2 linked regions of the Homo sapiens genome follow. The protein of the gene in region 2 binds, or shares a complex with, the protein of the main gene of each other region. Each region holds a gene or a part of one and is shown on either strand. Other genes may lie near its edges.

Evidence for each region. The genes of interacting proteins can lie anywhere in the genome.
Region 1: THOC1 (region 2) and THOC3 share a complex: the UniProt entries of both Homo sapiens proteins name them as parts of the transcription/export (TREX) complex.

The regions. Positions count from the first base shown.
Region 1 is NC_000005.10:175,962,174-175,965,315, reverse strand, and holds part of THOC3 (THO complex subunit 3), read left to right. Parts: intron 1-160; coding exon 161-365; intron 366-3,142. UniProt on the Homo sapiens protein: Component of the THO subcomplex of the TREX complex which is thought to couple mRNA transcription, processing and nuclear export, and which specifically associates with spliced mRNA and not with unspliced pre-mRNA.
Region 2 is NC_000018.10:226,200-230,383, reverse strand, and holds part of THOC1 (THO complex subunit 1), read left to right. Parts: intron 1-3,482; coding exon 3,483-3,583; intron 3,584-4,184. UniProt on the Homo sapiens protein: Component of the THO subcomplex of the TREX complex which is thought to couple mRNA transcription, processing and nuclear export, and which specifically associates with spliced mRNA and not with unspliced pre-mRNA.

The DNA of each region.
Region 1 (3,142 bases), on a different chromosome or scaffold from region 2:
ACTTATTGTTGAATCATAAGTGGTAGCTCCCTTCCATTGTCTAGGACTTTAATGAGTAAGCCCGGAAGAAAGCTCTGGTCTTCTTTCTAGGATAGTGCAATAAACTTGTGGAAGATTATGAGCAAACAGATTATCTTGCTGATTATGTCTGGGTTCCCAGGGGAGAACATTAATATCTGCTGGAGTCCTGATGGGCAGACCATTGCTGTAGGCAACAAGGATGATGTGGTGACCTTTATTGATGCCAAGACACACCGTTCCAAAGCAGAAGAGCAGTTCAAGTTCGAGGTCAACGAAATCTCCTGGAACAATGACAATAATATGTTCTTCCTGACAAATGGCAATGGTTGTATCAACATCCTCAGGTGAGGGGGTCTAGCTTAGGGGACTGTCATGTCTTTGTGCTGGGTGCTGTGTCAGATATGGAGATGAATTAGATGTGAGCCTATCCTGAAGGAGCTTAAAACACAAATAGTAAGAGAGAATCCTAACCTGTCTTAAGTACATTTGAGCTGTATATTTTATATACTTTATATTTTACTGAGTCCTTACAGAAATTCTAGGGGTTGATGATTTGCTTCTCATTTGACAGATGAGGATCTGAGGGTGAGAGGTTACATCAGTAGTCAGCTAGTGTGTGCTAGAACTGGATGCACCTTGAATTATGGCTAATTCGTACTCCCTTTTTTTTTGTTTTTCGAGACAGAGTTTTGCTCTTGTTGCCCAGGCTGCAGTGCAATGGTGTGATCTTGGCTCACCGCAACCTCTGCCTCCGAGGTTAAGCGATTCTCCTGCCTCAGCCTCCCAAGTAGCTGGGATTAGAGGCATGTGCCACCACACCTGGCTAATTTTGTATTTTTTGTAGTTTAGGGTTTCTCCATGTTGGTCAGGCTGGTCTCCAACTCCCGACCTCAGGTGATTAGCCCGACCTCTGGCTAATTCGTACTCTTAAAGTTTCAACTGAAATATCACTTTGCCTTCAGGGAAGCTCCCCCGCTACCCCAAGGTTAGAGGTAGGTTAGAGGCGTATTTTATATACTTTCTGTAGGAAGCACTTTTCTTTCTATATTGTAATTGCATGTTTATTTGCCTGTGTCTCCTGTTAGACTGTGAATTCCTTGATGGTAGGGATGGTGTTTGCCTTGTTTAGTGTTGAGTCCCTAATGTCTAGTCCTGTACCTGCTCCACGTAGTAGGATCTTAGTAAATATTTGTTCTGTAAATGAATGAAACTGTGGAGCTGAAATTCAGGTCTGTTCAATTCTAGCCTTCCACTATCCCAGGTGAACAATGCAAGACCAAGTGAGATAGGTTCTGTGAGTGGGAGGCCAGGAGTTTGCTGTGAAATTCCACGGAAAGAACAGACATACTATATGGGGGGTTGAAGGAGGGAGCTTGTGAGCTTGATCTTGAAAGATGAGCAGAATTTTAAGAATAAGCAAAAGGGAACCACATAACTGACAAAGCAGGTGTGAGTGAGCATGACTTACTTGGAGAGTGGTTAGGTCAGGGTTGTTGGGGGAGTGGTGGCAGATAAGGGAAATAAGAGAGGGCATGATAATGGGAAGATGAAGTCTAATTTGGGACCAGATTATAAAAGGCCTTTATTTTATGCTTAGTATCTTGGGTTTTATTTTGTAGGCAATGGGGATTCTATAACTTTTTAAGAAAAATCTTTTTATTATAAAACACAGATATTGAAAACCACATAAAATAAATGTATAGCTTAATGAACTCTTATAGGCTTAACTCTTGTGCAACCCCGCCCAAGTTGAGAAGTAGTTCTTTCCAGCCATCCCAGAAGTCCATCCAGGTGATTTGTCCTAATTACAACTTCCTTCCACAAAAGCAAACACTATCCTGACTTTTATAGTGTTTCTTCATAGTTTATCTACCACATGTGCAGCCCCTAGATACCCTAGTTTTGCTCATTAAAAAAAAAAAAAATTGATATGTCTTTTGTATCTCTTAAATTACTCAAAAGAAACTTCCGAAAACGTAGCTGTTGAAAAACCAGACTGTTAACCTGTGGAGATTCTCCCAGTTTGGCTTTTGCTGATTCCATATGCTGTTTATGTGTTGGACTGTTGTGTAAAGAGATGCTGCTTCTCATCTGCGATTTGGTTACCCAGTAGTGTAGTTCATGTAGGGAAGGCAGGATAAAATTTTGATTCTGTTTGTCAGATAATGATTTTGTTTCCTGCTACCTCCAAAGATGAGCAGTTAGGTGTTTTTTTTTTAAAGAATCATTACGGGCTGATGTTTTTAAACATAGTTGGTGTGTTTCCATCTCTTGTAATTGTTACGCCTGTTGAAGCTCAAATTATCCCATCTTTGGCCAATAAGAACCTCTTCAAGTTGGTTCCTGAGACCTTTTTTGACATAATCCCATCGTCTTCTGTTTTTTTGCTCTCTGGTTTGATAAGATGTTCCAAGTTCATCTTGTGCATTTCTTGCCCCAGACCTTTAATCAGAACATTCTCCAAGAAGCCTTAACATTCTGGCTGGGTGCGGTGGCTCACGCCTGTAATCCCAGCACTTTGGCACTTTGGGAGGCCGAGGCGAGTGGATCACTTGAGACCTGGCAATCATAGAGAAACCCTGTCTCTACTCAAAATACAAAAATTATCTGGGCGTGGTGACGCACGTGTATATTCCCAGCTGCTTGGCAGACTGAGGCAGGAGAATCGCTTGAACCCGGGAGGCGGAGGTTGTAGTAAGTTTAGATTGCACCACTGCACTCCAGCATTCTGGACGACTGAGTGAGATTCCACCTCAAAAAAAAAAAAAAAAAAGGAGCCTTACATTCTTTTACTGAGAAATGATACTGAAGTTAGGAATGTTCATTACTGCTGGGTTGGCCTAGGAATTACGTGTGTGTGTGTGTGTGTGTGTATATATATATATATTTAAAGATAAAATACCTTATGAATTCATGTTGATAACTTGCAATCAAAATTGAGGACTCCAGGGATTTTACTAAACCTCTTCTATATTACAAATATATTTCTTTCCTCCCAAATTGAGTATTCTGGTTCTCAAGGGCACAGGGGATCATAGAATTAGAATATCCGATGGTTACTTATTACCTATCTCCCATGGTAAACATATAGATGTCTCAGAACAACAATATTACTGCTGCT
Region 2 (4,184 bases):
TCGTCTCTTTAAGCTAGGGGTTCACATCTCTACTCCAGATGTATTGAACTGTGTACTTCGGTCCTTCAAATAGGCCAGTCTCTTATTTGGCTCCCCTTCTTGCACCCCCATCCCCCAACCCCCACTCTCCACCTTTAGGTTTGTTCCTTGTTGAGAGTTTAGATGCTGCTTTCTCCAGGAAGCCTTCCTAGAGTTGCTTGGGCAAATGGATGTTGGAGCCTCTCATTGAATTAGCCAATGCTGGAGAACAGCTTTTGTGGAGGAAATTGATGTTTTACTTTGTTCATGAAATCTGATCAGGTGTCAGTTGAACATTCAGGTAGAGATGTGTGATAGGTTGTCTAGTGTACAAAGCTGGAGACTAGGAACAAGATCTAGGTTGAGAGTATAGTTGTAGGAGTTACCAGTTTATAAATGGTAATTCAAACTGTAGAGTGTATGAAATGAGCTAAAGGGGAGAGTGTAGATTCAGAAGAGAAGAAAATACTGAAATCCCGAAGAAAACCCATGTTTAAGGGAGAATGAAGGGAGAAGAGGAGAAGATTGAAGAGTAACCTGTGAGATTAGAGAAAAACTAGAAAAGCATGCACTCATGGAAGCCAAGCATATCAAGTAGGATGAGGACAGTAAAGAGTGTTCACAGGATTTAACAACAAATAAGTCATTGGTGATCTTGACAAAACACTTTCTTCCCCCGCCCCAAGACCGATTGTTGCTCTGCTGCCCAGGCTGGAGTGCAGTGGCATGGTCTGGACTCATTGCAACCTCCGCCTCCCAGGTTTAAGCTATTCTCCTGCCTCAGCCTCCAGAGTAGCTGGAATTACAGGGCATGCACCACCACGCCCCGCTAATTTTTTTTTTTTTTAAATAGAGACGGGGTTTCACCATGTTGGCCAGGCTGGTCTCGAACTCCTGATCTTGTGATCCGCCCGCCTCAGCCTCCCAAAGTGCTGGGATTACAGGCGTGAACCACCACACCCAGCCGACAAAAACACTTTCAATGGATTAGTGGATGAGGCGGTCAGATGATAGCAGGTTGAGGAGCTGATTGGCAACAGTGCCTATAGTCAATTATTTTAAGAAGCTTTGCTGTTAAAGGGTTAGGTGAGAATGTGGGAGATTTTTGAGGGAGCTTATTTAATGCTTATGGAAAGGAGCTTGGAAAGAATAGGTTGTAGATACAGAAACCAGGGCAGTTAGTTGATGGAACTCAATTGTTAGGGATATTGGGATTCCAGATGGAAGGTAATCCAGATGGAATACCTTTAGCCGTGAAGGAGTTGTGACAGAAGGAAATGAAGTAAACAAAGGTGTAGGTGCAGCTGATTTGTCATTTTGGGGGCCAAGAAATGAAATGCTTTCCAATTTAATTTTTCTTCTCATTGAAGGCAAAAGTAGTTATCTACTGAAAGTGAGAAGGGGTGGTAAAGTAGTATTTTTGCTAAGTGGAAAGGGTTGAAAATCATTACTGTGAAGAGTAGGAGAGAGAATGGCCTTGAAGAATAAAGAAAGATTGCTGATTAAAAACAGATGTTTAAGGTGGTGACAACATACCAGTGGTGCCTTCTGCATAGCTGTGTAATTTGGGGTATTCACTCAGGCACCTCACTTTCAGCTGAGATTGGAATCCTGAGGGTTGGTATAGAGAAGGTGACTAACAGTTGGTTTATTCAAGGTTGCTGTTTGCTCACTAGACATGACAGAAGAAATATGGGACAAGTGTGTTGAAGTTGGCAAGAAAATGGCCGAAGAGATTAACCATGAAGTCTAGACCAGGAGTTGGCAGACTATAGCCTATAGGCCAAATCTGGCCCACCACCTGTGTTGGTTGTTTTTGGTGATTTTGGTTTTTTTTTCCCCCTTACATTTTAGATGTTTAAATACCTACATAATATCCATAATATGTCTCTTAGCCCACATAACCTATTAATAAAAATACTTACTATTTGACACTTCAGGAAAAAGTTTGCTGACCCCTTATCTAGACTAAAATAGGATTATAATAAAATGGGATGGGACTAACAGGCAGAGAATAGACGGGTCAAGGGCCTTAAAGTCTCGGTAAGATCCAAATATTAGGTATATTGGAAGCAACTGAGCGAGAGACCTGGGAAGGATAGAGGTTGTGGTGAGATAGGATTGTGAGTTGAAGACTTCAGATCTGGGGCAGCTGTGAGTGACCCCAGGTCTAGCTGTGGCCACAGTAGTGGGTAGCTGGAGCAGAGATGGGCCTGTCCGTGGAGTTAAGGGCAAGGAACTAACAGCCTGAGTGGAGACAGTCAAGTTGCCCAGGGGCTGGAGGAAGGGAAGGCTGATGGCCGGCCATTCACATTTCCAATTTGGGATAGGAGAGTTAATATAAATAACAATCAAATATATTCAATCCTTAAACGTGAGGGAAACCTGACTGGAAGGCTGATCATTAATTTTTTTTTTTAAGACCTGGAGCCACAGTGTGGAAGGGGTTGCTAGTGAATAGGGAGGCTTGTGCGTGTTAGGTAGCATTAGTAAATGGTACCAACCACGTAAAGCAGAGCCACCAGCACTTGGGACATTGAACCAAAACCAATCTTCGACGCTTCCAGCTGCCTTACTGGCGATTCATTTAGAAGAACGTGGCTTTCCTTTGTTACTGTAGTTTTTGAAGGCAGAACTAGCATGAGTTTGTGGATACAGACTTCAGCCTTCCTTCAGTGTTCCATGCACATAATCAGAATGACCTTCCTTCATCGCCGCAGGTTATTCTTACAGCTGGATGGCAGGGTCGTTGAAGAACTTCCTCATGAGTGACCTTCAAGTCCTTTCTAATCCAGATTCTGTGATAATACAAGTATGATGCAATTTTCACTAAAAGCTAAAAAAAAAAGCCCATCTAATCAGAGATGATCTTCACCTCTAATTTCTTGTTTATTGTCAAGTAATACCTCTGTTGCAGGCACTTTATAGGGCTACAAAAATGAGTGGTCCCCGTTGATATTGTGCTGTTATCCGTATCTTCTTTAGCCATTATTTCTTCATATGTGAGAAAGTAGTAGCCTCAGTTTTACTTTAAAAAAAAATTTTTTTTTTAAATTTAGAGTCTTGCTATGTTGCTCAGACTGATCTCGAACTCCTGAGCTCAAGTGATCCTCCTTCTCAGCTTCCTGAGTAGCTGGGACTATAATAGGCTTTGTGCCACCATGCCCAGCTTACTTTTTTCTATTTCTGCTTTATTTTATCCTCATGTCTGGACCATAGATAGATCATTGTTATCCACCAGCAAGAATGTGTCATGGCATAAAACAGTCAAGAAATCTAAGTGAAACCTTGACTGGGCTGTCTTTGGGCTTGTGCGGTAATGCCTCACATGCAGTGAACTCTCAACAAATGGCTTTTAAATTGAATTGGAATCTTCCATTTCTATATTAGCACATTTTGTACCTTTAGGAAAAACTTGATTTTAATGTGTTGTTTTCGTATGTGTTTGCTTGTTTCTTGAGTAGCTGATGGATTTACAACTGAGTGACAGTAACTTTCGTCGACACATCCTGTTGCAGTATCTCATTTTATTCCAATATCTCAAGGGGCAGGTCAAATTCAAAAGGTAAGATAATATGGGTAGTAAACAATTTGTAAACAGTAGCCAAGAAAAAAAAGGACTTGCTTACGATTTTTCTTATGTATGTGTCCATTTCATGTTAAGGCTGTATCCCTAAAACACATGTATTGCAGCTGATACATTGAAGGCTTTTCGATATTAGGATATTTAAGGAAAAGATGTTAAATATATCTGTCAGTGTGAGTTTTTCCTGCCCAACTCCAGGGCTTGCCAGGAGTTGTCGTCTTTATTAGCAGGTGGAGGTCTCTGCTCCAAAATTCCGTCATTCCCTTCTCACCTCCCTCAGACCTCCTCCAAAGCTGATTTGCAGACTAAGCCAGTAATACATATCTCACAAGGTGTGGAGCTCTGCAGGACATTCAAGCTAAAAGATGCAAAGAAAATTTTTAAGCAAAAAGGAGTTCATTTATTTGGGGTTTCACAAAACCTCATTAGGCTCTCTACTGTCTATCTAAATACTTCCATCCATTTCCTCCTATCCTGTCCATAACTGAAGGTGGAGCCCACTGTTACTTAACGGTATTTGTGTTAAGGACACTGAGCAATGCCGTATTAGTTGTATAATGACTTCACTACCTGCTGGGTT